Homo sapiens: one gene and its partner. The protein of the gene in region 1 interacts with the protein of each later gene in a pairwise test. Each region holds a gene or a part of one and is shown in the gene's direction. Other genes may lie near its edges. The genes, in order: SHC4 and MET.

What was found.
Region 2: the proteins of SHC4 (region 1) and MET interact in binary tests that used the Homo sapiens proteins (3 or more experiments, as listed by UniProt).

What each region holds. Positions count from the first base shown.
Region 1 is NC_000015.10:48,949,725-48,966,370, reverse strand, and holds the start of SHC4 (SHC-transforming protein 4), read left to right. Parts: upstream 1-2,451; 5' UTR 2,452-3,355; coding exon 3,356-3,940; intron 3,941-16,646. UniProt on the Homo sapiens protein: Activates both Ras-dependent and Ras-independent migratory pathways in melanomas. Contributes to the early phases of agrin-induced tyrosine phosphorylation of CHRNB1.
Region 2 is NC_000007.14:116,674,308-116,690,953, forward strand, and holds part of MET (hepatocyte growth factor receptor isoform b preproprotein), read left to right. Parts: intron 1-13,633; exon of another isoform or gene 13,634-13,720; intron 13,721-16,646. UniProt on the Homo sapiens protein: Receptor tyrosine kinase that transduces signals from the extracellular matrix into the cytoplasm by binding to hepatocyte growth factor/HGF ligand. Regulates many physiological processes including proliferation, scattering, morphogenesis and survival.

The sequences.
Region 1 (16,646 bases):
CTGATCTCATTGATCTGTGAGGGCCAGCTCAGGGGTAGGCTTCCCAACAACCCTAGAACCTCCAAAAATCCCCAGCTCATCTTCCTGTCCAGTCATTTCTCAGAGCTTTAGGAAGCAGTAAGATGCCCTGTAGCCATCATAGGCCTGGAAACTAGACTTGAGCTCTCTGGTCCCCTGGGAGGCAGCAGAGTACAGTGGCTGCCAGCAGAGGCTTTGCAATCAGGCCCAGAGGGATCCCAAGATCATTGCTCAACAGCTGGAGCACCTTGAACAAGTCACTGCCCTTTCTCTCAGCCTCATTTTCATATCTGTAAGGCAGTGAGGAACATAATCCAAGCATCCACAATTTGTTATAATAATTGAACCAGAATGTAGGTAAACTGTCAGGTGTTCCACAAATAGTAGCTCTTATTAATATTATTTTAATCATGACTAATTGAAGAGGATGTTCTAATGCCCTGGAAAAAGCAAACCATCTGCTTTACCCACCCATCTACCTAGAATGAAAAGCAATTCAATCAACGAGCCTTCTCTTGGGCTGTTAGGACTGAGAGAGTGGTCCAGCTGGGCAGGCTCAGCCTAGAGGCTATTCCCCACTTCCAGTTGCAGATCTGGTCTCTTTCACCCTCGTAAAACGCTGTAGCAGAGCTACCCAGGACAGCCAAGGTCTCTAGGCTTTGGGAAGAGAAGGAGCCCACAATGGCCATGACTGCTTTCTTACCTTACTTAGTCCCACTTCGCAACCCCCAACCCTCCCAGGACTCGCACTTTCTGAGGCATGTAGGCTGGTCTGGGCTCCTGGAGTCTGGCCAGCATGGTGCCTACCTAGATGAGCTGGCTCCCCTGGACACCCCATCCTGCAGTCATGAGACCTCTGTAAGGATTCCTATCAGCCAGGCAGGCCCATGTCCTTTCCAGCCTTCTCCAGGCCCACCTGATTTAAAAAATTGTTTTCTTTGGACAATGTTGAGTTTCTTAGCTTCTCCCACTTTGTACTAATTTTTCTTTTTAGTTGCCTAGAATGATGTAAACTCTGCAGTGTGAGGGTTAAGAATATGAGCTTCAAGGGGAGGTAGCTCTGGTTCCAATGGCCATTTTTTCATACTGCCCACATGTACTTAGTGAGATGGGCACTGTATGGAGCATTGGGCCTCGTAAGCCCTCATAACAACCCCATTAGATGGCTGCTGCCAACATATGAGGACATTCAGGCACGGAGAGGTAAAGTAACTTTCTAAAGGGAGCATATAATGAGGTCATCATAGCATAACAGAAGCAACACAGGGACCCAGGGACCCAGGGGAAGGCAGGAAAAATGAGAGGAAGAAAGCAGATGAGGAATGAGGAGGAATGAGAGGTAAATATTCTTGCCCAGAGCCTGTCTCCTCAGCCCCAGGGATGTGGGGTCCAACTGATTTAGCTACTTCCCTCAGTTTTGCCAGGAGGAGATGTAGGGCAGGGAAAAGGAGGTCAACAAGGATTGAAGGGAAGATTTATGAAGATGCAGAAAGGCCTTTCCAGGGAAAGAAATGTCTGAACAGGCTTGGCAGACAGGATGTGATGGGTGCTTTATTTCCCTGGGGGACCAGGGAGCTTGGGAGGAGGATGCCGCTTTCACTGGTCACTCTCAACCATTTAATTCAGAACCTGTGTTTGGATCCCAAGGGAGCTCAGGCTCCCAAAGTCATGAATATACATAAGCCTAATCCAGCATTAGGGACAATAAGATAATGAAGGTGGCACCCTTAATTCCTTTGGTTGCCAGTTTGTCTTAATTTTTTAATTAATGAACAATTTCAGATGTCAAAGCCTTGAGACACGGAGTAATGCAATCTTTTCTGAGAGTTCTTTATCTCTTCCTATGTGTGATTTCCACCCCACCCCGACACCCCACACCCCCAGTGTTTCAGCAGTTTCCTCTTCTCCATTCCTGAAGAACCTGCATTTCCTTTTCCCAGCTCTGGTTTTGGCTTCCTGTGTGCTAAGCCTTTGCAGTTGTCATCATGTCTTCAGGATGCATTTGATAGGTACAGGAAGTCGCACCAGACGGAAGATGGAACCAACAATCAATAAAAAAAGAACTATGTTTCTAAGAAAAATGCATCATGGCTTCCCACAGGAGTTGTGAACCATATGTCCTAATATCCCTGTAACAATGGGTCTAATTTTTAGCTCTTCTGCTCTGCCCTCCCGGCCATCTCAACAAGAAAGAAAATAGATCTTTTAACCTGCTGCTCCCCGGCTAATGATCTGTAGTAAAGATTGCCTTTCCTTTTAACTCATTCATCAGATACCACAAAATAAAATACGTCCCTCCTCTCCCGCTAGCTTTATTTCTCTCGGCTACTAGTTTAGTATATTTATGGTGTATGAGTCATCAAGCTGCCTCCTGATTGGATAAAAACCAAGCACCTCTGAGACCGTCAGTCAATTACAGCTATTCTCAGCTTCATTCACAGATTTATTAGCTTGCACACACACAGAGAAATTCATTCGGCAAAGTTCATTCATAAAAATTTCAACACGCTGCGTATCATCCTGCACATCTCAGCTTTCGGCTGCAAATGGGCTTCTGAAAAAAGCTCCGAGAGGAATCCAGGAGGGAGGGAAGCTCTGAGCGAGGGTAGGCAGGCTGGGAGGGGATCTGAGGAACACGGACCCATCACAAGTCAGTGAAACAATGCGGAGCAGCGCCCGTCAGTAGTACTCCTGGCTGGTGGCCCAGAACGGGATGCAAGACAAGATCTTCCAAGAGAGGGCAGCCTTTGGAATCAACGAACCCAGGCAAAAGGGCCTTTGGTTCATAGATACATTTTTTTTTCCTTTTTAAATGAACAATCACTGGAACAAATAAAGGGTTAATAGGCCAGTCATTTGCCCCGCCCTGTGAGAGCCGAAGGGAGCAGGTTCGAAAGTTCCTGTGTGCAGAACAGAAGGCTGGGGTGAGGGTGGGAGTCGGGTGCTAAATATTTCTACTAGGCTCCTGCAAGGCTAGTGATGCAGCGGGCCCCCCGACCGGCGCTCGCCCGGGTTCTGCGCCTAAGAGTTGGCCGTGAGCGACCCGCGCCGCCGGGAGCCTGGGTCTAGGCTCTCCCGACAAGGATTCCAAGGCGAGAACACTGGTGCCTCTGCCTGGGCCAGGGAGAGACTGAAATCAGAGCAGGGGAGGCGTTTCCCCCATGGGCTGTCACCCTTAAGGGGCCGGGAGCCGAGGTGGGCGAGCTCGAGAGCAGAGTTGGAGAGGTGGCTGCTGTGAGTTGCATCGGGCGTTGAGGTATCTGATGTCTGCACCGTTTATCTACCAGACGACGAGGCGATTTATGCAACAGTATCCTGTTTCAGCACTGCCAAGGCTATGCGAGAACGCGGCCAGGACAGCCTGGCAGGACTCGTGCTGTATGTAGGACTCTTCGGGCACCCCGGGATGCTGCACAGGGCCAAGTACAGCCGCTTTCGGAACGAGTCGATCACGTCCTTGGACGAAGGTAGCTCCGGAGGCTCGGTCGGGAACAAGGGCTCGCCGCAGCCTCCCCACCCCGCCCTGGCACCTCACCTGCCGACTGAAGATGCCACCTTGCCGTCGCAGGAGAGCCCCACCCCACTGTGCACCTTGATCCCCCGCATGGCAAGCATGAAGCTGGCCAACCCGGCCACTTTGCTGAGTCTGAAAAACTTTTGCCTGGGTACCAAAGAGGTGCCTCGGCTGAAGCTCCAGGAAAGCCGGGACCCAGGTTCCAGCGGCCCCTCTTCCCCAGAAACCAGTTTAAGTAGGTCCGGGACTGCACCTCCACCGCAGCAGGACCTGGTGGGACACAGGGCAACCGCCCTAACCCCTGATTCGTGCCCGCTTCCTGGCCCTGGGGAGCCAACACTTAGGAGCAGGCAGGACAGGCACTTTCTACAGCACCTGTTGGGGATGGGCATGAACTACTGTGTGAGGGTAAGTCCATTTTCCTCTCTGCCCTCTAAGAACTTCCGTGGAAGGGGGCATCTTCTCTGCTTTCTGCAAGGGGTCTAATGTTACCTGCCTGGGTTCTGTGTTTGGACAGGACATGATTCAACTGGACCAAGGCGGAGGGGAGCTGGGTTTATATATGTCCCTACAACTATCTGACTTGTACTGGAGTCAGGCAGCCTTTGGTTCAAGGACATGAACCGGTGCTAACTTGTAGGACATGAACTTGTGGGTACTTGGCAGGTGTAGAGGCAAGTTCTGATAGAGGCAGCTGATGGCACCACTTTGTCCCCGCTGGACCTAGTATTCTGGCCAAAAAGAGTCAAGGACTTCAAATCTGATCAGTGATTGAGACCTGGTAGGTTATACTGGCCATTGTATTTTGGATGAATACAGTAAAGATTTCTGTGCTGTAGAAACACATGGTGTGTAAGGGGCTTGAATTATTCTTTAAAAATTTATTTCAGCATTTAACAAACACTTCTCAAAACACGTCCGAGTCTCTAACCTTGTGCCAGGAGCTAGTCTTAGCTCTCCGGTGCACATTTATTGCCTTTACTGCCTACGCTGCAGCAAGTAGGCCTTGTCCATGAGCTATGGGCAAAATCAAGGTCCTTACTGGCCTTGTATCTGTCCTTGCTCAGTCAAGATGTGGGCAAATGAAGATTTGGCCTGTGCCCTTTTGCAGCTCAGATTTCAATGAGATCAATGAATACATGCGAAATACTAAGATAATAATACTTAGCAATAGATAGCTAATATGAGAATGCTGAGGGAATTCAGAAAAAAGGAAAGATTATGTGATCTGGGATTCATTCACATGGGGAACCCTCAGGAGAAGATGAATCTTGGAAGAAATGTCAGATCTGGGTTGGCAGAAAGGAGGGGATTCCTGGTAGGCCAAGAATAGGAGCAAAGTCACTGTGGTGGCTGCAGGGGAGCATCACACAGGCTGGGCCTTATGGAGGAGGAAGGGGAATGCTGGAGAATAGTGGGTGACTGAGGGAGGGGGTGGCTTGTAGTACTCAAACAAGTATGAGTTGAATAAAGACAAATAGAGATCACGGGTAGCTTGGGAGACCGAAGTTGACTGAAGCTCTTAAATGCCAAATGAGGAGATTGTAAATACTGTGATTGATAAATGAGAATCCTCCTAGGTTTGTAGGGCATGACTTGCTGAAAGTAATTTTTAAAAGACCAGTTGGTTGATTTATTTGACATGGATTGAAGCAGGGAAAAATTAGAGACTTGGAGGACAGTAAGAAAGATACTCTGAGAGTTTAGGTATGAGGCAATGAGAACACTGATTAAGGTGGAGAGGAGAGAAAGGAGGTGAATGGTAAGGCATTCTGTGACAGAAGAATGAGAGAAGCCTCAACAACCCTGGGAGATTAAGCAGATCATTTCAAATCATAATATAACTAATAGAGTAGTGAACATTTATGGAGCAGTGGGTAGATTGATTATTTTGTTACCATTGTTGTTTATTGGGGTTGTGATTGATTATTGATGGAGGGTTGTAAAGGGTGAAAAAAAAACTTTCAAATTGAAGTCTCAGAATGACATCAGTGATGCCAATGACTGAAGCAGAGTAAATTAGGAAATGGACTCATTTTAAGTTTGTTTTTGACATATTAAATTTAATGTAATTATTTGTAAATAATGCTAATATGTAGGTAGACAGTCATATAAAACTAGCACTCAGGCGAGATGTCTGATCTGAAGGTATAGAGAGCTAGCCCAAGAACTGTATTACAGACAATTAGGATCTCAGTATTACAAACAGACAATTAGGATCTCAGGGAAGTTCAAATAATAAACACTGGAAGGGTTACAGAGAGAGCAGGCTTGGGCAGTCCTGGCAAATGGGTAACTAAAACCTCTAAAGCAGATAAATGTATGGGACATGCAGCTCTCGCCCTCACCCACAGTGACATGGCACATAATGGAAATATTTTCATGTTTCTACTCAAAGTTCATGGGCATATTCTCATTTATCAAGATTAGGTGTGTGCCAGGCCCTCATGGGAAAACGAGTGAGTCTCCAAACCTGGGCTCTCTGCACTTGCCTTACCATCACCTACACATCCTCTAGCCTCTGCCTCAGCTTTCCTTTCCTCTTGTACCTCCTGCAACCTCCCCATACCCACACACCTGTACAATTTTAAATGTGAAAAGAGTTGCTGTGTGATCTCCAGTTTCCCTAGGGAGTGCCTCCTCTGGCGTTTTAGATTTTTAATGGGGGCACCATCTGTCTTTTCATGGCAATAATCACTGACTCCAGAAAAAGTGCTGACCCCACGACCCAAATGAACCTCACAAGATTGCCGATATCCGTGATGTCCGATACAAGCTAATGACATCTCTTATGAAGTCAAAATACGTGAAAGAACTTACTTATTAAGTTTTATAGAATCCTAACTTTGAAAGACGGAAGACTCAGAAGTTATCAAGGTCAATTCCTTAATGGTGAAACCAAACCCCAGGTTTTTCAAAGGCCACACAGATGAGTTAAAGCAGAGTGAGATCTAGAGCCCAAATCTCCTGTGTGCCATTCTTATCTGTCTTCACCACAGGTTTCCATCCTGGTTGTTGTTCTGTTCCTCAGAATTCTTTTGAGATGTGAACCAATTTTGAAAAATGAAATGCTAAGCTATTAATTTACAGTAAAAATATCATACCAAATGAACCAAAGTTGTGAGCTCTGTATTCCCATCTGTAGGAAAAAGCACATAAAAAATTTTAAATCAAACCTTGCTTGGTAATAATGGATTCATAGGAGAGAACTGAGAGAAAGATGATCTTAATGGCTAGTTGACACAGGGCTGGTGGATTTAGGGGCAAAGTTTACAGGAAAAAAGCCACTTCATATTCTACCTTCTTATCCATATCATGTGACTGCTCCTCTCCCTGCCCCAACTTATTTGCTAATCCATTCATCCATTTATTTAACAAATATGTATTATGAATCAATTATGCAGCAGGAACTGTTCTAGGCACTGGGCATCCATGAACAAAATGAATCAGTTCTAAGCATCAGTAAACAAAAGAGACCAGGTCTGAATCATTGTGAAATATTTTAGTGAGCGGAGATAGGTTCAATTGAATAAATGAAAAAATATACTATTTCAGATGGCATTAAGTGCTATGGAGAGCAATAAAGTGGGGTAAGTGAAAAAGGCAGTAGCTTGGGTGGGAATGGAAGGCATATTACTCTTGGGTAAAAAGTGGGATTGTTATAGCTACTCTTTACTTTGTTTTCTTGCATATTTTCTCTTTATGATAGGGACTATATTTTTCATCTGCGCTAAGCTAGAGTTGACTTTGGGTTAAATATTCTTTTTAAAAAATGGTTCTTCATTTGGTCTTATGATGTAGAATAAATTATATAGCTGAAAACACTTTATGAATCCTGACCACCTGTTTTGAGTAACTTTAATTGAAGCTCAGACTTTGGACCACCTGAAGGTCTCTCAGGGAAGGGGGCCTAGCAAACCATTCTTTGAAAGATATTGAGCCAGAAATAGGACAGTGAGATCCCAGTCTGGGCAAAGTAGTGAGGTGGGCAAAGCCCATTAAATGGTGTCAAATGTGACTTCATTCTCCCCATAAGACTGAGTCTCCTTTCTTTAGAGGCCTTTCCAAGTCCATTCATCCATCAGCAGACATTCATTTAAAGGTCTCCCAGGTGCCCAACATAGTGGGGAATGTGGAAAATCTACAACGTGACAGTGTTCTCCTCTTTAAAATGAGAGAATTGGCTTGAAAGCCCCCTCGCAGCACCAGTATTTAATGAATGTAGGGTTCCTTTCTCACACGGGAGGTGTTGAAAATGTTAGTTTCCTTTCCAATTCTCAACTTGGCTCAAAGACTTAATAAAGCAGAGGCAAAGAAACCAACCTTGACGAGCTTTGGCAGGTAACTGCAGTGGCCCTCACCACAACCCCCTGAGGAAGGCCGTGTTCTCCAGGTGAGGACACTGAGAGCCCAGGTGTCTGTGATCCACAGGATACTTCACAACTAGTAAGTAGCAGACTGAGGATTCCTAACCAGGTGTGTCTCACTCCAATGTTCCTCCACTTCCCAACCTCTCACTTGCCTCCAAGCAAGACAGGCAGCCTCTGAAGTATGGGAATGGAGTAGCGTAGATGAGAGGCCACACTGTGCAGGATAGCCTCATCATAGGACCAGCCCATGGAACTTGCCTTGTGATATGCATTTGCATGATTTCAGTCTCTTCACTTCAGCCCAGCCCAGCCAACTGTTTCCCAGATCGCATTAGTTTCCTAGGGCTTCTGTAACAAGTCCCACAAACTGCGTGGCTTACTACTATAGAAATCGATTCTCTCACAGTTCTTGAGGCTGGACGTCTGAAATCAAGATATCAGCCAAGTCACGCTGTCTCTAAAAGCTCTAGGGGAGGAATCTTAGAGCTCTTCCTTGTCTCTTCTAGCTTTTGGCAGTTGCCTGCAATTCTTGGTGCTCCTTGGCTTGTAGATGCATCACTCCAATCTCTGCCTCTGTCTTCACATGCATTCTCTCTGTGTGTCCATGGCCAAATTTCCCTCTTTTTTATAAGAACATCAGTCATTGGATTAGGGCTCACTCTCATCTAATATAATCTCATCTTTATTTGATGACATTTGCAAAGACCCTATTTCCAAAGAAGGTCACACTCACAGGTTCTGAGGGTTAAGACTTGGGCATATCTTTTTTGGTGGACATAATTCAACCCAAAACAGTCCCCAAGAGCATTTATTGCAATGTGTTTGCTCACATGGGCCTTCTTGGGTATCAAGCTCATCAGCTTTGTGTGCAAATAGAAATTTGTGTTGAAAGATTTTCTTTACTTCCTTTATAAATCCCACAGTATACTCTTACCATCCGTCTTCTCCTGTCTAAGGTATCTTATCACTGACCCAGTAAACTAGTATTGTCAATCATCTGTTGTCTAGACTAGATGTAGTCCACAGTACCACAATGTTACATCTACCTCAAGTAGCTTTTCCATAGGAGAATACAGGTCTAGGAGTTTGGAGACGTGCATTGAAGTAACGGCTCTGACACTAAGCTGTGTGATCTTGGGTGGGTCACTTCACCTCTGTGGGCCTCATTTTCTCATATTTAAAAGAAGTTTCAGCCAGGCACAGTGGCTCATGCCTGTAACCCCAGCACTTAGGGAGGCTGAGGCACGCATATCACTTGAGGTCAGGAGTTCGAGACCAGCCAGGCCAACATGGTGAAACCTCATCTCTACTAGAAATACACAAATTAGCCGGGCATGTTTGCATGCACCTGTACTCCCAGCTACTTGGGAGGCTGAGGTGGGAGGATTGCTTGAACCTGGGAAGTGGAGATTGTAGTGAGCTGAGATCATGCCACTACACTGCAGCCTGGGCGACAGAGCAAGACTCTGTCTCAAAAAAAAAAAAAAAAAAAAAGAAAGAAAGAAAGAAAGAAAGAAAAAGAAAAAAAGAAGAAGAAGTTTGAACAAAATGCTGCTTAAAATCCTGAGACTCCAGGTCTTCTTTCCTACCTGTTTGAAACCCCTTATTATTAGGATCTCTTTTGGTTAGAAAGAGTTACCTTGAGGAAATAATGTTTATCCACTTTATGTTAGCAGAGAAGAGAAAGAATGTCCTTCAGGGATGCATTCACTTCTATTTTAGCACCCTCTTACTAACACTGAGCTGGCTTCACCAGTAAGGCAGAAAGGAGGGTGTTATACTGGCATGGGTGGAGGCAGTAAGTTTTAGAGAGATGGAGGGTGGTAGAACAGCATCCAAGAGTAGAATTCCAGGGAGGGGTGAAGGGTGGGCTAGTTCGGGGGCAGGCCAGGGTTGGAAGAGGTGAGCGATAGTGGATGGGATTGTGGGAACATGGCATTCCTCATGTGTCTGGCCAGCTAGGTCTGACTGGACTTGGTGTCCAACAGGAGGACTGCAGAAGTGACAGAAATTAAGCCATCTCTATTTTCTCTGGACAAAAGAGCCAAGAGAAAAAGGCCTTGCCACACACATAGCCTGGTAACTCTAACCTTGAAAGAGGGAGATTTGTGACTCCAGGAGACTCCTGGAGAGACAGTCCCATGGTTTACACAATGAAGCCAGACCTGGGTCGCTCAGGTACCCACAGCAAAGAAACATGGCTTTCTGCCTTTGTAAATTTCCTTCTTTTCTAAGTTATTGGTGGTTGAGAGGGAGGTAGTATGGATGGGAGGAAATAATTCCAGCTAAAACTGATGACTTGGCATTGAGGGTATTATATTTTCCTTCCTATTTCTTTCTTGGAGTAGACGTGGAAGTAGATTCTGCTGGAACTTAGAGAAAGCCTGGCAGGTTTGACCCGTTCCCCTGTTCTTCTCTCTAGACCTTCACATATCCCTTGATTGGTCCAGTCCTTTCATGCCCCTGGACACTAGAGCCTTAACTGCAAGAGTCTTAGAGATCAGTGAGTCCACACACTTCATTTTGCAGTTGAGGAAACTAAGGCTCAGACATGTGAAGTGACTTGCCCCCAACCACACATCTACCAGTGGTGGAGCCCAGACAAGAGCTCCCAGTTCTGTGTACAGCACTCTATTTTCTACCTCCACCTTGCTTCATCTTCCCCCACTTCCTGAAATAAATATGCTACACCAAATGCCTCTACATGATTAAAATGCTGCGTGTGCTTTTTAGAAAGATAATTACAAAAACTTCTTTCTAATGGGAAAATTGTCTTAAAATAGCAGTGAGAAGAAAAGAGGGAGCATAGAAGGGTGGCAAGGAGACCAAAGAGCACTGGCTTGGCCAGTTTCAACCTTTTGATTAAGGAGGTCCCTGCGGATGGCAGTGTGTCCATGTTGGGCCAGGACTTGTTACCACATGCATGGACTGGCTCCCATTTCATTCATTGCTGCAACCCTAATGACCTTAGGGTCATTTCCCCAATATGGTTTCCTCTCATTTCCATGTTCATATTACTCTGAAGCCAATACGGTGTTATCATATGGAGGGACCGAACCAAGCCTGGACCCCAATATGACAGTTCCATCACCAGGAGAGTGATCTAAATGATGCACACAGGCTGCCCCACACCCCGCTCCTACCCAGCTTCACTCACTTACATCATCTGTCTGCACCTGAAGGTGGCTAGGTTTGCACACCCACCCGTGGTATTGGAATGTGAAGACATTTCTAGTCCCTTTGTCTTTCATTTTCCCCTTCAGAATATGTGGGAAAGAAGCTTAGAATGTCCTCTTCCTGGGTAAACATACTGGGATGTCTTTCTTTTACGCAAAGGGACAGAGTACTGGGGGCTGCAGGAAACCCAAGAGAGGGATCCTGCCTTCTCAACTCATGGAGCTTTTTCTCATTGTAACAATGTTGCAAAGAGTTTTTAAGGGTGGTAGAACTCTAGGATTAGTACAGGCTGTTCCCATTTCATGAAGAGATTGCGGGTGAAGAGTTAATTTGTACAGCAGTTCTTTGAGACTGAAATTTCTCAGAGAAATAAAACTAAAACTTGATAAGCCTTCTCATACAGTTAGGGACAGGATAAAATAACAAACTGTATGTACAAGGCTTAGCACAGAGCCTGTCTCACAGTAGGTCCCAAGTGGAGGGAAGAGAATGGATTTCAATAGCCTAGGGGGTGCCTCTGGGCCGAAAACTCAGGATAGACTAAACTTGGTTTTGGCATTTCCCCACATTCCTTTGGCATACTTTCTCCCGGCCAGCAGCGCCACCCTGGCAGAACTTTCTTCCCTAAGTCTTGCCTTGTGCTGCTCACCAGGGAGGGCCTGCCTGCCTTCTTCTCTAAAGCTGCCTAATGTTTATCCGCTAGTCCCCTGCTCCTCCAGTGCAGCAAAGCGAAAAGCATCTGCATTTTGGAAAGATGTTTATTTACTTCATTGACTCTTCATTGTAGTGTTTCCCAAAGTTTGCTGAGGACCACCTGTATCAGTTAAAAATGCTTGTTAAAATGCAGATTCCCAGTCTCTAGCTTGGACTTACTGGACCAGAATGTCTGAGGCTGGGGCCCAGAAACCTGCATTTTTGGCAAACTGCTTATGTGATTCTGCGGCAGAGAAGATTTGGGAACCTCTGCTGAGTCCAGTCAGAGCAATGGTTCTCAACGGGGGATTATTTTGCCACTCAAGGGACATTTGGTAATGTCTGGAGACATTTTTAATTGTCTTAGCTGGGAGGGGAGGTGAATGCTACTGGCCTTTAGTGGTTGGAGGGCAGGTTGCAGCTAAACAGCCTGCAAGGCCCAGGGCAGCTCCCACAACACAGAATTGTGAGGTCCAACACATCAGAAGTGCTGAGGCTGAGAAACCTTGAGCCAGTGGGATGAAGTGTATGAACCCGGGATGTAGATTAGGAGGCAATATTAAATGGAAAAATAAACAACTGCTCAGTGATTCCTGTAAATCGAATCTAAGCCACTTCTACATCTTCTCATTTTCTTCTTTCCCCTCTTTTAAATCTACAGATTCTCTAAAAATTATAGTTCACACCACTTTCCACCCAAACAATATTCCTGTGGCTTCCACATCATGATCTCAAGTCATGGGATGAGGGTGAGCCACATGAGCCATATGTTGCTATGAGCTACTCGTACATCAAGGATGTCCACATTAGGACAGATTCTACCTTAACCCAGGAGCACTCGGGCTAAATGACATTGACAGGCTAGCTTACTTTCTTTTTCTGTGGAGGGAAATGGAAATATGAGATTTTATTATAATTTATTTGGAAATATAGGAACATAACATCACATTCTCATTAACATAATAGCTATGATTTGTTGAGCTCTGTGTATGTTGCAGGAAGCTTGCATCAATTACCTCACAATGACCCTGTGGAGTGGGTAGATGGAGAGGAAACTGACACCAAGAGAGGCCCATTGTCTGGCCTTGATGCTTATAAGTAGCAAGCATCAGTATTGAAATGGGAGTCCAACATGTCAACTCCACTACTGTAGTTTGCTTTACACAGTGTTTGTTTTTTTTTAACTTTTATTTTAAGTTCAGGGGTACATGTTACATAGGTAAACTTGTGTCATGGGGGGTTGTTGTACAGATTATTTCATCACTCAGGTATTAAGCCTGGTACCCATTAGTTATTTTTCCTAATCCTCTCCCTCCTCTCATCCTCCACCCTCTGATAGGCCCCAATGTGTGTTGTTCCCCTCTATATGTCCATGCGTTCTCATCATTTAGTTCCCACTTTTAAGTGAGAACATGCAGTATTTGGTTTTCTGTTCATGCATTAGTTTGCTAAGGATAATGGCCTCCAGCTCCATCCATGTCCCTGCAAAGGACATGATCTCATTCGTTTTTATGGCTGCATAGTATTCCATGGTATATATGTACCACATTTTCTTTATCCAGTCTATCACTGATCTTCATTTAGGTTGATTCCATGTCTTTGCTATTGTGAATAGTGCTGCAGTGAACATACATGTGCATGTGTCTTTATAATAGAACGATTTATATTCCTTTGGGTATATACCCAGTAATGGGATTGCTGGGTCAAATGGTATTTCTGTCTTTAGATCTTTGAAGAATTACCACACTATCTTCCACAATGGTTGAACTATTTGCACTCCCACCAACAGTGTATGAGCATTCCCTTTTCTCCACAATCTCACCAGCATCTGTTATTTTTTGACATTTTAATAACCATTCTGACTGGTGTGAGATGGTATGTGGTTTTGATTTGCATTGTTCTAATGATCAGTGATGTTGAGCCTTTTTCATGTGATAGTTGGCCACATGGATGTCTTCTTTCGAGAAGTGTCTGTTCATGTCCTTTGCCCATTTTTCAATGGGTTTTTTTTCTTGTAAATTTGTTTAAGTTCCTTATAGATGGTGAGTACTAGACCTTTGTTGGGTGCATAGTTTGCAAAACTTTTCTCCCATTCTGTAGGTTGTCTGTTTACTCTGTTGATAGTTTCTTTTGCTGTGCAGATAGCTTTGTATCTTAATCATGGTATCCTACTCTTACTAGTAACTTCATTTTCACAGGGAAATGCATTAAGATTTTTAACAACTAATTTACAAGTAAATTTTAAGAGCAGAGCCTGTCTTGGGGTTGAAAACTTCCTCTAGTTAGAGGGGTTGACATTCCAGTTGAAAAACCCATGTGCTTTAGGGACAACCCCAGAAATTGGATTTTTACCCTTAATATCATCAGCAAATAATTTATTATATATGAATCATTTATTGGGAAGTGGTAAAATGCATAATTCAAACTTAATCTTTTTTAACCTAATGCCAATCCTGGCTCCTTGAAAGGCCATTGTGCCTCCCACATCCCTCTCAGCTTGGTTCCTTTAACCCTGGACTCAGAACTCATCTGATAGGTTAGACTACAAAGTTCTGTTTCATGGTGAGTTAAGCTCTCCAAGGTCACAGGGCTCATCGGCAGCAGCGCAAAGACTAAATTTCACATCTCCTTACTCCCAGGCCAGTGGTCTTTCCACTACATTATGTGAATGAGACATAATTCTTGCATGAGGAGGTGTGGTAGGAAAGTAAAGCAAAGATGTCCACACACATTACTGTAATAAATGTTAGGTTATAATAAATGAAACCAAAGTGATACCAATGAAGGATTATGGGAGTTCAGAGAAGAAAGGGCACACCTTCCATTTGAGATAATTAGAGAAAGTTTCTTGGAGGAAGAGGTATCTTACCTGAGTTTTAAGAAATAGGTAGAGTTTCCATAGGCTGAGATGGAGAGAGAACATCCTAGGCAAAGTGAAGGCATGGAGGTGGGAAAGTGGAGGATGTATTTGGGGAGCAGTAAGTGATTTGACTTGGTTAAACAGTGCAAGAGGCATATGTAGGAAATCAGAAGGAAAATAAGATGGACTGATACAACAAGGTTGTATAGTACCTGAAAAGCTGGGTTTTCACCAGAAAGCCACTGGATTTTTTTTTAAATGGGGGAATGACAAATGCAGAGATATGCTTTAGGAAGATTACATGGGCTGCAATGCTCAGAGAGGATGCAAGAGGAGGGAGCCTGGAGAAAGGCAACCAGAAGAAACAGAGTGGTAACAAAGGCAGTGGCACTGGGAAGAGAGGGGAAAGATGGGACACCTAAGGGAGGAAGAAGCCACCAGCTTCTCACCCCTTTGGAAATGGGTCACAGGCAGGAAAGTGAGGGGGTAGGAAGGATGTGGCTGGGGATGAGTCCCATTGTACACCTGCTGTGTTCAAGGTGACCCCGAAAGCATCCAGGTGGAAATCTCCAGCAAAAAATAGAATAGTTAGGACTGGGGAGAAATTATTTTTGTTGTTATTGTCATCAAGGCCCGTGGAATGGACAAGGCTGCCACAAGGAGAGGGTAGAGCAGGATTTAGGATTTAGGTGTTCTATGGAAAGGGGAGGAAGGGAATGGGCAGTATGAGGAGCAGGATGAAGAGAGGACAGGTCACCTAGGGAGAGGGTGGAGAGAGTTTCCAGGAGAGAGAGGTTGGTCAAAACCATGTCAAAATCCGTGGAGTGTTCAAGGAAGATGAGAACTGAGAAAGAACCGCAGGGCTTGGTCTTTTGTCTTCCTACTCCTACCCTCCTCCAGGATATTAACGCCAACCATCGCGACCCAAGCACACCAGTGGATATCCCACACCTCCACTGTCACCTCCGCCCACTCAGTGAATGGTGCCTCCCTGTTGTCCAAGTCAGAAGTCTGGGGGCATTCTAGACCACTCACTCTGTCTTGCTGCACGCAGCCTCCTCTTATCACAAACTGTCAATTCCACCTTTATGACATTTCTCACACACTCCCATTTCCCTCCATCCCCACTGCAGTTTCTAAGGTGGGCTCTAGTATGCACCATTTTAAAACTTATTAGATCATCTTCTCATGGAGCTAATATTCTGTGAAACACAGGTTGGGAAACTCTGCTACTATAGCTTTCATTTGAAACTAGGAGATCAATAATCATAATACAAGGTAGAAAATGATATATGCCTATAGACACAGTCATATACATCAGTGTGATAAAGTAGATATGTCTTCTATCTGGTGGAGATGTCTTCTAGCTGAGTAATCAAGGAAAGCTTCCTAAGGAGATGGCCTCTGAGATGGTCCCTAATGATCGGTTAGAAGTTTAACCATAGGGAATATATATATATGTAATTTTATATATTATCTAAAATATATATGAAATTTAATAATATATAAATTTTATATATAATAATATAAATACAATTATATAATATAAAATTATAAATATAATTATATAATATAAAATAATATATACAATTATATAATATAAAATAAACACATATTATTATATAATTATGTATTTACTATATTATAAAAATATATTTTATATGTTTATTGTATGTTAATAAATATATTTATTGTATTATATTTATATTATTTATTAATAATAAATATTTTAATAATATTAATATATTATTTTATATATTATTTCATATTTCATATGTTAAAATTATATATAATATATAATCTGCATATTAATATATTATATAAATTATATGTATAATTTATAACTTGTATACATACATTATAAAATTATTAATATACTAATTATAATATATAAATATTACATAATTTATATATATATTAATTTGTAATTATATATAATTATAAAATTATATTACTTTACATATATATAATTTTTTTAAGGTATTGTAGATGAGGGAATATAGATAAGGAATTA
Region 2 (16,646 bases), on another chromosome or scaffold:
ACTTTTAAACCTATAATAGAGAAAAATGACCCTTTGCTAAGCAGGAGAAATACCCATATTTTATAAATTCCTTTTAAGACTATGTAAGTATATGCCTTGCATTAATCTTGAAATCTTTAAAAAAAAATTGTCTTAATGAGGGCTAGACTAAGAAATACATTTCAAAAATCAATTTCCTTAGCTGTTTTTAAAATAGTGTTTGAAGTAGCATTAGTCATATTATCCTTCTGCAGATCTACATAATAGTCTCAAATTAACTTTTTCTCAAATGTGGTCATCTCAAAACAACGTGAATAACTCAGAGGAGCTAACATCCTCTAACTGGCTTATTTTCTCCAAGTGGCTGCACCAAAGACATGGCAACACCCCCATGGTGAGCACAGTTCCTCACACATTCAGATTACCTCCCATTTCTCTGTCCTCTTCCTCCTCAACCCTTTCCCTTGGTTTGGTCAGAGCTGCTTTCAAGGCCTTCCGTGCCCCCATTTCTCCAGCCCAGTTTGCTCGTTTCTTCTTTAGGCATTAGGCTTAGTGATTCTCGCCAGAGCCATCTACGCTTTCTTTTCCGTGGTCTAAATCCCTAAGATTTCCTTGGTCTGCTGTGTTTATTCATAGGATACTCAATTTCCTCATTGTGCCCTCTTAAGGGGAGAAAATGTATGTAGAAACTCAAGTGTCCGGAAGTGAGCCTTCTTTTCCTGGCTGGTGTATGCTGAAACTAGTGTTTTTGACACCAAGCCCTTAGGGCAGAGTTTCTTCATGGGTTTTGCTCAGTGCAAAATAAATAGTCACTTCTCAGTAATAAATGATAGATACACTGACTAATGTTAGTTCAGAATCACTTTGATGATGTGTTCTCAACTGACACTGAGTTGCTGCTAGATCCACATTTGCCTGACCAAAAATAGCTAGGACCTATAGGTAGAGTATCATATGTGCTAGGTACTACAGCATTTTCTTTAAAAGAAAGAAATGGAATCTGCCCTTGAGAAGTTTATGATCTAGATACACAGACAAATATCACATATTAAATGAACACAAATTCATAATTATTAAGAGGACATCACATGAGAAACGCTTTCAAAATCATCCTATTTGCTATGAAATAATAGAATTTTTTTTTAAAAATCAAAGTTTGGAACTTAAAAACCTTAACATTTTCAAGCTGTTTCTGCATACATCACCTTTCTGATACCAAAACGACCTTACAAGATAGGCAAGTCTGATAACATCTTAACATTCTTATGTTATAGACAAGGAAACTGAGCTTGAGACTAGCTCCATGCTATTTCAATAGCACCATACCACCTTTCCTCAGCCATCAACTATTGGAAACATTTTCCATGGAGGCATCATTAGGGATGCTTAAGATAGTGGTAAATGATGAATATAACATATCTAGTCCCTGGAGTTTTTGTCACCTTCTCTTTCTCCAGTTCTCTCTCTCTTTTTTTTTTTTAATTTCTTTTCTTTTCTTTTTTTCTTTTCTTTGTAGTGAGACATACCGAGAAAAGGTTTCATTCATATGTGTGGGGCATTCTGCTCCTGTTATCAGATTAAGAGCCGTGAATAATTTTGTAATCTATCCTTCTATCAGAAAGCCCATTCTCAGATATCTTTTCAGCTGTGTTAAACAGGTTAGTATATTCCGCTTGGGATTTGTTTCAATAAAAACATCCAGTAAAATCTGACTACTTTGCTTTTCATGGGACAAAATGAAAAAAGTGCTTTTATAAGCTGTAAAACTTAATTGAGAGAAAAAATCACGTGTGGCATTTGTAGCAGGAGGTATGAGCTCAGTGAAATAAAAAAGTTAACTTTGTAATCACATACCCAGGTACACATATTTCTCTCTGTGATTGCATAAATGTGTGCAAGTATGTTTATGTAGGTTACTCCCATTGATTTTAATTTCTATAATAAATTATGTAGCTATAGGGCCCACAGGCGATTATATAATGGGCAATAGAATTTGAAAATGTATCTCTCCTAATATAATTAAGGATAGCAATTATGAAATGTGCTTAGAGAATCACAAGTTATCGTGAAAGCCAGGTTCCTGTACTCCAAGAATGTGAATGAGGATTTAGTCATTCATTCAGGACAATTTTTTGACAACCTACGAGGCATAGTTCTAAAATCTGGCATTTCCACAGAGTATAAAACAGATGAAAACCTCTAACCTCATGACACTCTGTTCTATTGAGTTGGCAAACAATAAAGAAATACATAACTGAAATGTGTTGTATGTCAGGTGATGATAATAGCTTCAAGGTAGAATAAAATGGAAAAGAGAATAGTGACTGTCAAGGATAAGAGAGAGTGGGATGGTGATTGAAAAACTCAATAGTGAGGTCAGGGAAGGCTTGTCTTCAAAGGTGGGCTTTGGGCTAGAATCTGAAGGAGATAAGGAAGTGAGCCAGGCGCATATGAGGAGCACTTCTCAGGAGTGCTATTCTCATCTTGTTTTTCCTGAAATTGTGCAGTTCACAGCTTGCACAACTGTCCATAGACTCCCTGATTTTGGAGGGAGATACCTGAATAGTGCCCCTGTTTTTGTAGGGAAATACCTGGACAGTGCCTGCCATCATTAGCTACCATGTTAAAGATGAAGATACAGGAGTGGCCCACATCTCTTGGTTTATGAGACATGGAAGAAGAAGACCCAGAGTGTTGTTTTGTTTTTTTTTTTGTTTTTTTGTTTTGTTTTGTTTTGTTTTGTTTTGCATCCGCCTGGTCCCATCCCATACTCCATCCTCTATCAGAGATATTGCTCCATTCAGACAATTTTCCTTCTTATTTTCCACACTGTGAGCCTGTCACAGTGGGATTTGTTGAGAAGGATACCCATGGCTTTTTTCACTGATCCCTTCCATAGTATAAATCTAAAGACAGCAAGAGGCAGTTGCTGATGGTGTGCAGCTTCTGTCTGCTATGCACTTCTTTCTTTCCCCCTCGCTCTCCTTCCTTTTCCTTTCCAGTATTAAGTCACTGCATTGGATTTTCTTCCTCTTTTCTTCCTTTTCCCTTATTCCCCTATTTATATCCTGTATCAAGATTTGCAAACAGGTAACTTAAATGAGGAAAACTAACCATTTCACTAGGGATTGACAAACTGCTTAGGAAAAGCAGAGGGGCAGTCACTGCTTGGCGTGATTAGAGCTGTTGTGAGGCTCAGTGTATGGCATGGGCCCATGTGGTAGTATCTTTCAGATTTTCAAGAGAAGCTAGGACTCTCCCAATTTTAAAATGTTGACTCAGTGTCTTTAAAACACCATACAGCTTACAGTGGCAGAAAGTCTGCAAGCCAGATTGGGCTCCTGATGGTCCCAATTGCAGCAGCATGCATGGCCCGAGAGCCCCAGGACTGCTTCTACAAAATATTTTATTTTCTAAAATTCTCAGAAAATTAACTAAACAAATTTTTTAAAACCAATATTTTATGTCAGTTCCTATTGGCACGTGGTTATTTTTCTAAACTCATCAGCCCACATACTTTACATCAAACTATGTACGTTTCTAAACTAAAGGGTAATCTAGTTATTTCATTCTTAAACTGAAGTAGTAGTTTTCTGAAACCTGAATCCATCATGGCTTTATGCATCAATTTCATTTCCAAGTTCTCTGATTCAGGATAAACTCCCCCTTTGGAATATTGTCTTTCTCTCTCTCTCTCTCTGTCTCTCTCTCTCTCTGTCTCTGTCTCTGGAAATGACTGAACTTCACCCGTTGTTATTACCCTGCCATTGAAATTCAAAACATGCACTGCCCTCCTGGTTTCCAGTGCCCTTTAAAAGCAATCAGATCAGTGTTAAAATCTATTTTTCCAAAGGAATAAAAGCTCACAGGTTGTGCACTAATTTGTTTCCTTTAATCCTAAAATCTCAGTGAAATGCCCAAGCTAGCAGCCCTCCAGAAGGCCACTGTGTTAGAAAGGGAGATTATGTACTGTATTTCTTCCTACTATTTTAAATGCAAATATAATAATATATCATGAAACAGTGCACATACAGTATACATATTAAGATCAGTGGTCTATTCCTGTTTTGAAATGGTCTCCTACTCCTTAATAGTTGGAATTCTGAGGCAGCACCTAGACTCTCAGGTCCAATTTGAAAATGTATGTTTTTTTTTAAAAAAGAATGACTTGGGGAATAACTGTTTGATAAGACCGTGGAAGATTTCTAATTTTTAATATTTTATTAAAAATGTAAAGAAAGACATTCAAAGCTGAGACCTTTGAAATAATATGGTCTTTGCAAGTCAGAGAAAAAGAGAAGTGGTAAATTTATTAGAGATAGGTTGCCTCCTTTGAGGCCTAATCATGTGGGAAAGGAAAACCCAGCCAAGGTTTGGGTCCATAAGACAATTCAACCTAGCTTTAAAAATAGGTTTTGGCTTTGCTTGGGACCAGCATTGGGACCAGAGTGTATCTAGACCAGCATTTTAGCTATTAAATTTTAAACCTAGGGGTCTTTTAAGGGAAATTTAATCCATGTGTCTTTGATTCACTAAATCTTAAATCATTACTCACAAACTGTATGTCCCTCTAAGCTCTTTGATGTCCAAGAGATCTCTAAAATTGTGTAAGGCCTTTTTGTTCCAGAAAAAAATAGGAAGTTGGTTTTTGCTAAGCGTCAATAAACAGCATCCTCAAAAATCTGATTAGGTCTAAAATCTTGCAACCATGACAGTATGGATGTTTGAATGATGCAATGTGAAAATTTTAAGCACTTTTTAAAGTCCTTGTTTACCAGTAATACTCAGTTGTAATCCTTACTAACCCCAAGGAAATTATTTTGACACATTTCCTCTCTGTTTTGTAATATAAATACAAAGCCCAAATATTCATCATTTTATTCTGGCACATAGTAGGTACTCAGTAAGTATTTTGTAGAGTGTTGAATGACTCTTTCTTCTGCCCAGAAACTTCTAGCTAATGTCAGTTCTTCTATTCAATATTGATATCCATCTGTCATACCTTGGAATAAGATCTATTCTAAGTCAGTGACCTTGTTCGACAAATTTTTAAAATAAGCCATCTAACTAAATATATGACATTTATTGAAATTCATTTTGCACCATGAAGCAACTGCCTTGCAAAGAGTGCTGAAAATAGGAAGGAATTTCTAGACTAATTTGATTAAATATTCAGTTGTTGCCATATGCTTTCTGAAAATTGATTTTCCCCCTTTTACTATTCCTGTCATCCTTCCTCCCACCTTGACATGCTTACTGATTGAAAGCTATGCACAGAAAAAGGGCAGGTCGCTTGTATGTATAAGCAAGAGCAGCAAGTCCAAACAGGCTTAGAAAACGTAATGCTATAATCACGAGTTGTCATAATATAGGAGAGGGGAGAGAGGAATACTCAGCAATAAGAGTGGTGTTGGGTATTGCTCCAAATTACATGGATGACACATCTTTGAACTCTATTGTGTCGGGGGAAAACACCTTCTTGCTGTAGTTAGATTTCCTGTTTGTGAATGTGTATTTTCTGGTAACCAGACTTCCTATATGAATTTGACATAGCTTTAAGTGCATTTCAAATGACATGATTAAAGAATGGCTGCTTTGGAGACAGCAGCTCCTTCTCTCTTAAAGAAATAAACTATCATGCTAAAATATAGGCATTGAGATCTTTCTTGATACCATATTGTGAATTTCTAATGGCTCATCACATTTTTATCCTCAGAAAACCTTTCCTGGTGAAAAGCATGCTGTTTTAGTATCACATTTGGGGTGATGGAATTGGCAATTTCTTATATCTTGAGGGGGCGGGGGGGTAAAAGGAAAATTGTGTTAATAGGGTCTTAAAATAGAGATTCTCTTAGGTTAACCTGAAGATTTACTAAATACATTATCATTACAGCTTGTTTTGACATTTAATTGTAGATGGCACTGTATCAGCACTGACTTATTTATACAGCTTTGTTTAGACATGCCTAATTTTTATTTCATTGGTGGAACCAAACCATCAGTAATAAATCATATATCAGTGTTTTTGTACACATTCGTATTTACATGACTTTTAAAATTCCAATGTAAAGGTCTCACAACTTGAAAAATGAATGAATGCCTGAGTATTTGAACAGTTGGGAAAATGTAGTTCAATTTAAGAAAGATTTTTTATGACAATTCTTATGCCATATATAGAAAATAGATAATAAAGGAGAAGGCCTGGAGGTTTAGATGGGATATTGGATCAATGAGCAAAGGAAGGGGAAAGGTGGGCGGGATATGCTGAAGGGTCATGGGCTTGAGTGCACCCTAAGTCATAAAGAGGGTGTCCCATTAAGAATCAGGCTGCCTGAATTCTAAGTAGGAAAGAGGCAGGTCAAAATGGTGTATAGGCCAGGCACAGTGGCTCACGCTTGTAATCCCAGCACTTTAGGAGGCCAAGGTGGGTGGATGGCTTGAGCTCAGGAGTTTGAGACCAGCCTGGGCAACATAGCAAAACCCCCCTCTTAAAAAAATTACAAAAAGTAGCTGGACATGGTGGCGCACACTTGCAGTCCCAGCTACTCAGGAGGCTGAGGTGGGAGGATCACCTGAGCCTGGGAGGCCAAGGCTGTAGTGAGCCGAGATCATACCACTGCACTCCAGCATGGGTGACAAAGAGAGACCCTGTCTCAGAAAAAGTGGGGGAGGGAGGGTATGGAATAAAGTAAAGCTCATGGGAAAATGGTACCTTTACCATTTTCCCACCTTGGGAAATGGTGGGAAAATTTAGACATTGCTTTACAAAGTCTAAATTTCTGCCAACTTGTGTTACATGTGGTTTGATTCTGGAGAAAGATAGACTATCATCTATCCAGTCCTAAATTGGGCCTCTTAGTCTGTCCTCCCCTCAGTTACCAGGAAGAATAGCAGGAATATGTCACAGAAGCAGAGAAAGCTTTTATTCTGAGTGTCAGAGGCATGTTCTAAGCACTCTGTTATCTACTCCCAGGCACTCTAAATGAAATTCCATTTTCTCTGAGGAAATCAAAATATAAAAAGAAAACTCAGGCAAATTTATAAAGGTTTTACACCATTTTCATGACTGAAATATTCTAGCATATCTAGCTCATTATAATCTATAAATTCCTGTTGGGACCAAAAGTTATGGCCCTAAAACCTGTTATCTGTAATCCTTTTCCACTGGGATATTGTCTCTGGGGATATATATTAGCTTTCCTTGAGGATACTACCTTGAAACCATTTCTTTGGTCCTTGACTATACAAAGTTCATACTAGCATGGATGTAGGAATTGTATTTTTCTATTCTAAATACGAATTTAGACAGTGATATAAAGATTCAAGGAAAGCTTCTATCAAGGCCTGCCTTCACTACTTGTCTTTTGGCTCCTCTGAGGGTCTTAGGTGAGCCACTTTCATCTGATTCTGCCCTCACTTCAGGCAGAATTCATATGGCTCCAGCCAATGGCTACACTGTCCAAAGTGAGACTGTGGTCTCACAACCATCTGGTTAATACAAAGACAGCAAGCCAATATGATCACTTAGGACCTAGGCAAACCTTTGGGCTTAAAATATTACCTTAGCTATTGTTGTTTTTAATGAGTATCAAATAGTATGATATTTGTAATTTGTATTATGTAAAGAAGTAACCAAAGCAGAGATTGTTGACAAAAAAAAAAACTTCCTCCTAACATAAATGAATATGCATTTTGGACTTTTCAAAAATTCCCTTTCTGTCTTGTCAAAATTAAGATATTTCTAAATTTTATTTCGGTCTCACTAACACATACTTGGATTATTGTTCATTGAAATCTGTACGTCAAGGCCCAGTGATTTTAAACATTCTTTTGGTCTTCAAAGAACTTACCAAAAAAAAATTGTTCTTTAAATCACCAGAAAAGTGCAGATAAAATCCCAGACAGTTTCATTAATGACAATGAAAGGTGACAGCCCTTGAATCTATGTCATAAGTTGATTAATTACTTTCCAAACATTATTAAAGATATTAGACGAATAACTTAGACTGGTATCCAGGATCAAGGTTCCTTCATAATCCCTAAATGGGTTTTAATTTTCAGAGTTAGATGATCATTATATGTGATTTATTTCTTTAACATCTTTAGACTGTTGGCTTTATTGAAAAGAGAGGAGAGTATCTGTTTCAATGTGTTTTCTTTTCCCTGAAGTTATTCCTTGCAGAATTCAATAAAACCGGTTTTGAAATAAAAATAATTAAATGCTGGCATTTTCTGTTAATAAGGGCCCATAGACCTGATGAATTATATAAACATTACAAGGAATTTACCACTGAGTTCATAATTATGTAACCATTTAATGCCCAAACCTGCCTACTGACAGTGAAGACGTTCAATGAGAATGGACATTGTGCATTAGGATAAGGATGACCTGGAGTGAACTTTCATTCTTGTTTTGGTTCTTTCCCATTTTGCCCAATTCATAGCACCTGATTCTCTTAACCAGCAAGTCTGTTTGCATGTCTCCAGTCCAATTTTTCGCCATGCCCACTGCAGTGATTCCAAACTCTCACCATTTCTTAAGCTCTTGCATCTTTTGGGCTCTCCTTATTCTCAGTATAAGATCTTTCCTTATAGTTTAGAGAGTAAACACAAGCCCAGTTGTTTCCATGTCACCCATTATTACCTCTTTCTGTCTCAAAGGATGAAACAGTCTTTTCTACCTAAGTCTTGACCCTGTTGTTCCCCACACCTGTGAGCACCTCCTCCCTCTATCCTACCCACCTTACAACTCTTCCCGTGTTTAAAATCTCCCTCACCATTTTTCTTTTTTAAAAAAATTATATTTTAGGCTCAGTGGTACATGCGCAGATTTGTTACATAGGTAAACTCGTGCCACAGGGTTTATTTCATCACCCAGGTATTAAGCCTAGTACCCAATAGTTATCTTTTCTGCTCCTCTCCCTCCTCTGCCCCCTCAAGTAGACCCCAATGTCTGTTGTTCCTTTCTTTGTGTTCATAGGTTCTCATCGTTTAGCTCCCACTTATAAGTGAGAACATGCAGTATTTGGTTTTCTGTTCCTTTGTTAGTTTGCTAAGGATAACAGCCTCCAATTCCATCCATGTTTCTGCAAAAGACAGAATCTCATTCTTTTTTATGTCTGCATAGTATTCCATGGCTTCTCTATTTTTCATTCACCTCTTACTCAACTTACTGATTCTTCTAGAAAGAAATAAAACACACACATCAGGCATCCTGATAGGATCTTGAATACACAATTTCCTTAAGTAGTCACTCCTGTTTTCATTTTAGCCTTTAAATAATGAATTCTTGAAAATAAATGTCTAACTCAGTTTCTCTACTTTCTTCATTCCCATTCATTCTTAAGTCATTCAACTCAAGCAGTCTGTACCACATGCCCAAGAAAGTGTCCTCATTCTAATCACCAGTGCCCTCCTCATGGCCAGATCTGATGGACACTGGTTTTTATCCCTTTTGACCCGTCTGTAGAATTTGACACCATACATTTTATTTCTCCCTTCTCGAAAGTTCTCCTTAGCTTATCTCTCCACATTTTCTTTGCCTACAATTGTTCTTTTTACCCTTTAAAACATAAAGGTTAGATTCTAGTCTTCTGTAAGGCTCCATCTGAATTCCTCCTTTCTACTTACAAAACACATTCACAAGTGATCTCACTTCAGTGACTTCCAATACACCGATGGACGAGTGGTTCACAAACCGCTCTCTCTCACTTCCTCTTTTCTCTAGACCACCACTTTCATGTTGTCAGCTACCTTACAGACTCCACCACTTAGATGACCAGAAGCTACATCAGGGTTATTAACTCAACTAATTACTTTTACCCTCAAAGTCTCCTCTCCCTATTTTCCTTACCTTGGTTTATGATACCCAGATAGACAATTTTTTAGCCATTCTTGGCTTTTCAGTCTCCTCTACAATCAAAATCCATATTGAATAATTCCCACATAATTTTTCTCACTTTAATATGTGTATAATCTAGTCCTTCCTTTCTTTCCATAATGCTAGAAACTTTGTTCAGGAACATTCTTTTGTATATTGATTGATTCTGTTGTCCATTCATTCAATAAATGCTTACTAAGTGCCATGTAATGACACTATGCTAAGGGCTAAAAGTGGAGCTTACACTCTGATGGGAGACACAGATAAATAAGTTACTATATAGTGTGGTAAAGGCTAGATAAGGGGAAGACAGGTTTGATGTTTGAGCACATAGGAGAGTTCCTAATTCCTTACTAGAAGGTAAGAGATGCATCAGAGAAGGCTTCCCAGAACTGTTCCCTAAGATGAGGCTTGAAGAGAGAGGACAACTTATCCATGTGAAGTTGAGGGCAAGAATATCCATAAAGAGGGATCCACATGTGCTGAAACCCAGAGTGGCTGAGCACATGGCTTGCTTCAAGAACTGGAAGAGGGCAGAGTGGCCAGAGCCTAGATTTCTAATGGTGTGATGGCAAGAGGCAAGACTGGAGAGTGGGGCAGAAAAAAATGGTATGTGGTTTGTAAGCTCTGCCAAGGGGTTGACATTTTTTTTCAGCAAAGAAGTGACATAGTCAAATTGTCAGTTTAGAAAGATATCTCTGGTATGCTAGGGGGCAGATGATCAGGGTGAGAATGGAGAGGGAAGACCAGCGAGGAAGCTGTTGTAGTAATCCAGGTATGAAGTGACACTGCCCTGACCATGGGCATGGAAGCCAATAAGGAGATGGACATGTTTAAAATATTTGTAGGTGGGTGTCAAAGATGATGTCCTAGAAATATGGGACATGTTCAGCACTGAGGTAGGATACAGAGAGGGAGACCAGGTTTTGTGGGAGTAGATGGAGATAACAGAAGGATATCCAACTGCTCCTTCTTGGTCTCTTGTCCCATCTGTCTTTGTCTCCTGACCTATTAGCTTTGGTGGCGCCATCACTCAGTCCTCCTCTCTTCATTCTCTACAGTCCCTCTCCTCGGAGATCCCATCCACTCTCATGGCTTTTCATGATGTCTACATGCTGACAACTTCTTAATTTAAATCTCTAGCCCAGACCTTTCTCCTTAACCCCGGGACTCAAACATCCAACTGCATGCCCGGCATCTCCACTTAGATGCCTAAAAAATGTATGTCAGGCTGAGTGCAGTGGCTCATGCCTGTAATCCCAGCACTTTGGGAGGCTGAGGCGGGTGGATAGTGAGGCGGGTGGTGGTCAGGAGTTCAAGACCAGCCTGGCCAACATGGTGAAACCCCGTCTCTACTAAAAATACAAAATTTAGCCAGGTGTGGTGATGTGTGCCTGTAATCCCAACTACTCAGGAGGCTGAGGCAGGAGAATCGCTTGAACTTGGGAGGCGGAGGTTGCAGTTAGCCAACACCACATCACTGCACTCCAGCCTGGGCAACAGAGCAAGACTCCATGTCAAAAAAATAAAAATAAAAAAACCTCCATTGTGGGCAAAACTACATTCCTGGTCTCCTCATATCCTACAAACATGCTTCACCAACCAGAGTCTGCATGTCGGTAACTGGCAAAGCCATTCTCTCTGTTAAAAAAGTCAAAATCCTTGGCATATTCTCCTTTTTTTCTCACATGCCTCAGATCTGACTCCATCAGTAAATCCGGATGGAGTTCGATCTGAGGCATGTGACAAAATAGCTCTGTCTTCAAAATAGAACCAGAATTCGGCCACATCTCCCCACTCTCCCCTTCCTTCCTGGCCCAGGCCACCAGGGTCCCCCTCCTGGAACACCACTGGAGCCTCCCAGCTGGCCTCACCACTCCACCTTTGCCCTGAACTGCCCCCCAGCCACTAGCAGTCTTCTCTCCCATATGATCGAGGTGAATACATTCCAACATAATCCCCCCTTGTTCAACACCCTGCAATGACTCCCCATTTCACTCCAATAAAAACCTGAATCTCCCAGGGGCCTACAAGGCCTTACATGCTCTGCTTCTTTGTCCTTTTGATCTCAGCTCCCGGTCAACAAAGTCCAGGCTTACTGGCCCCCTTGCTGTGCTTCAGACACACCAGGCACATTTAGTTCTTCCTTCTTGCCTCTGCCCAGAAATCTCTTTTCCCATCTCAGACATCTGGGTCCACAAAAGCCACCTTCCCAATTTCCGAGCTACAAACCTATCCCCATACCTCTCCTCCAGGCAGTTCTGATGCCCCAGCCCTACTTTTTGTTTTTCCCTGTAACACACATCAACTTCTGAAACACTACATCATCAGCTTGTTATGGGTATTAATTGTTGTCCCCAGCTAAAAAGTAAGTTCCACAAGAGCAGGGGTGTTGGGTTTTGTTTACTGATGTATCCCAAGCATCTGATGCATAGTAGGACCCCAGTAAATACTTGTCAAATTTGGTCTTAAATAGCTGTTGCATAGACAAAAGTGATATTGGAGAGATGGATTTCGGGATTCTCTGGAGATCCTTCAACAAAACATATCAGACTTTCTTTAATGTGGCCACAGCCTAATCTTATACCTTTTTCCACTGTCAACCCAGCCCACCTGGCCTCTATGCCAATTGCAGCTTCCTGGACAACCCTGCATCTTCTCCCCAGGTGCCCGTGTGTGAGTCCACTCCACCCAAAGTGTCTGTCCCCTACCTCAGCTGCACCTGAGCAGCTCCAACTTATCCTGCAAGACACAGCTCAAGTAGTATCCCCTCTGAAATACTCCTTGGCCCCGCTTTCTGTCTGCATAGTTAGCTCTTCTCCCCCGTGCTGCTCCACTGACATGCGCACACCTTTACAGCACAGCCTGGGCGTGTTGCAGGTGGAAGGTGGAGATTCCCAGTCAAGGGGCAACACCTGTATGGTTGGAAAAGTTGTTTGTTTTAATTTCTTGCCCTCTCTTCTCTCTTCTATTTCTTTCCTCTCCCATAAATACACATACCGCCTATATACACACAACCTGCCCTGAATTGTTTTCCTTGAATTGATGAGTTACGTAAATGCAATCCTAAGCACAGTTGTTTTCAGGTTGTCCTAACCTTTTGCTTTATTGATTTTTCAAGGATCCAGAGTGTTTACTGAGTTTCAGAAATTGGATTCTGTACTTATTTTTCTGTACTATCCTAGTTTTATGAGAATCTATTTGCTCAGCATTCTCTATTCTTTTAAAAGTGTTTAAGATTTTTGTAAACAGTTTTGTTTGGTTCTTTATTTTCTGGTGACATATTGATCTCAACATAATGCTATTCATATACTTTTAATTCTTCTTCCAACACTGTTAGGATTGCATTATGTTCACCCAAGGAATCCACATCTGTACAAAATGTGGCCAGGTTTGGCTATTCCTTCACATTCACAGTATTCTCATGATTTCTAACAATTCTTGTCTACTTTGCCTAAATAAGAAAATGTCATATACTGACAATTTTGATCGTGAAAAAGAGACCTTAGTTCATACCAGTGTCAGAGTCTACTTGCAAACATTGATTTCCAAGAAAATTTCTCAGGTGTGAGCAAATAAGCAAAATAAATTCAGACCTAAGAGAAAATAGCACTACAAGGAACGCCCAGCTCATTCAAACGCTCTGCATTTTGAGACTAGAGGGGGCTTGGCCTTTGGCACCCTCACACCTCTCCCCTTTGTCTCTCTGTCCCTGGGTGCTGATTTCTCTTTCTTTGTGTGACAGCCACTGTGAAAAGAATGGGGTTCACTCACCACCTGCATTCCTCCACAGCCATTTGATATCTGCTTTCGATAACAGCAGAGGAAACTGATCAGTCATATAAATCCAATCCTGAGCATAGTTCCTCGTTTGGAATTGTACCATGCTTTATGCCGAGGACATTTTCAAACACGGAGGGAGGGGATGTCTGATTCATTCGTGAGTAATGTACCAGCTTCCTCTCCAACTTGTCTCCCTTCAGTGGTTCACATTCTGACTATTCAGTCGGTTTATCCTTTCCAAACCCAGTATTTGAATGCAACTGGCAAAGGTTGATTGCCTCTTTTTTTTTTTAATATATAGACTTGGAAAGATGTTTCTCAAATGTGATTTGCGGATTTATGTTATTCAGTCTTCCTGGATTAATTGAACAAAAACTGGTAACACTGCTACACAGTCTGAATCACAAAATTATGTCCATCCATTTGGCTGAAAAATACGAAAACAAATACTTGTATAAGTTTTCATGCATTTTAGCACTTTCTTTACATTGGGGAAGTTCAACCTTCACACTTTCAAGGGCAATGAAACATTTTTGTCTGACCTACAATTTATTAATGGGACAAAAGCCCATCTGTCAATCAGGGCTCTGAGAGTTCAATGTATTTTCTGAACAATATTTTTTACATTATGTACAATGGTAAAAACAAATGTCCATTTATTCTTCTTTCCAAGAAGTTGAGTACTTTCAACCATTCTTAAAAGGACAAAGATGTTTGCTGACAGAATATGAATTTATAAAGGATAATCTTGAGGATATAATGGCATTCTATTCTTTTTATCTTTACTCTTGCCATATCAGAGTTGGATAATAGTCTCAATCATATGTTACAACTAGAAAATGCACAATTGGCTTTTTCTTATGCTAACAGGCAGCCATTTTCAACTTTTTAAATGATTATAGGACTAAGAGGGGATGCAAAAACAGATAAGAATCTGAATAAAAGCACTATCTGTCAAAGAAACAACATTTGTGTAATAATCAAGAAACCGTTTAGAGCACCCCCTGGAAACATTAATTATAACACATGCAAATCATTCCTGTACAAAGCTTAACTTGTTTATCTCCTATAGCCACCTGTATTTGAATTTTTTAATAAGCTCATTTATTATAAATAAAGCATGTAAATCAATCTGGGAATACCTTTTCTGTTTCAGAAATTTCATGTAAATGACAGGCTGCCACATACAGTACAACTATAGAGGGGAAAAAGTTTCTTTACTCCCTTTCATATAGTTATACCTTCATATGACACTTAAAACCACCTGCCAGGAACTTTTAAAACATGTTTTAGATGCACAGAAGCAAACCCAAATGAAAAAATGCTATGCAGTTTTGCAATACATATATACCACAGAAAGCTTTAAAAACATTCTACCCCAACAGATAAATAGATTTGGCCCAAATCTTTTTAATGTGAGTTTTGTGGGTAAAAAAGATTATTGTTCCCTTATTTTTCCCCATTTGCTGACGACTAGGATTGTCATATAAAATACATTCCTGGGACATGCTTATACTAAACAAATTATCCACTGTTTATCTGAAATTCAAATTTAACTCAGCATCCTATATCTTTACTTGCTAAATCTCAGTTGGGATATGGGCTTACTCTTTTTTTTTTTTTTTTTTTTTTTTTTTGAGACAGAGTCTGGCTCTGTCATCCAGGCTGGAGTGCAATGGTGTGATCACGGTTCACTGCAGCCTCAACCTCCCTAGCTCAAGTGATTCTCCCACCTCAGCTTCCACAGTAGCTGGGACTATAGGCACATGCCACCATGCCTGGCTAATTTTTTTATTTTTTGTAGAGATGGGGTTTGCCCAGGCTGGTCTCAAACTCCTGAACTCAAGCAATCGTCTGGCCTCAGCCTCCTGAAGTGCTGGGATTGCTGGCGTGAGTCACAGTGCCTGGCCTGAGCTAACTCTTTTTTAAAGAGTTAAAATACTGGTTCCTATTTGTTTTTACTTCTCTAGTATGGGAGGCTGTTACTGTGGCTTCTGTCTTGGGGGGCAATTTTCGAAGGGCTTCAAGAACTTGAACCGAGGTTAGAGGAAAACCACAAGATGGCTAAAGGGTGGGAAAAGAAGAAATAACACTATTTAAACTTTAGATGAGAGGACTAAAGTGATGAAACAGTCACCAGGTATTTGGAGTGGTCTCACCCAAGGGACTGTGCCAACTTCCTCATTTTTTATGAGGGCAGGCAAAAACTGGCCAAAACACAAGTTAGGATAATAAGCATAGTAGCTATTATTAAATGCTAGGGTGTGCTGCATAACTGAAGGACAGTGTTTCTCACAGTTTATCTCCAACTCTCATGGCCAACCCATGAGATGTATATCATTATCCCCACGTTTTGAATATAAGAAACTGACACTCAAATCAGAAGGCATGTCAGTGAAAAAGGCCATATTCACATCCCATCTAAGTCTGTCTGACACTAAAGCCCACACTCTCTCCACTACACTCCACCTTGTCTCCAGAATGTTTTGGGCTGTTTAAATGTGATTATACCAAAGAGCAGTTGAATGCACTGAAAAATTCTGAAGATTCCTCCTGTCCCTTCGATTCACTGTTGGAAACCATTGTCAAGGTAGTGTCTGGCTACGATAGAAGGGATTTTTGACATGGCCTATTGTTTTATCTTTTTAAAGTAAATGTAGGTGCTTTTGATGATCATAACACTAACTGTTAAGTCTTTAGGCATAAGAATCAAGCATTCAACTAAGCATGTTTACAAATTTGCTTTCAGCCCAGTGGATCTATCCACTTTTCCATTTAGGTTGCACATTTAGATTTCGGAGTTTATCCTGTTATCTTCAAATCCACGGACTGTACACTCTTTGAGGGAAGAAACTCTTAGTATCTAGTCAAGTACGTGGCATGCAATGGGTGCTCCCAAATACTTGATTAATATCATATGATATAATGTAATATGATTCTTCATAAACAGTGAGTGTTTATAAATACAGTATTTTAAATGTCATTAGGAATCTTCTATTGGAAT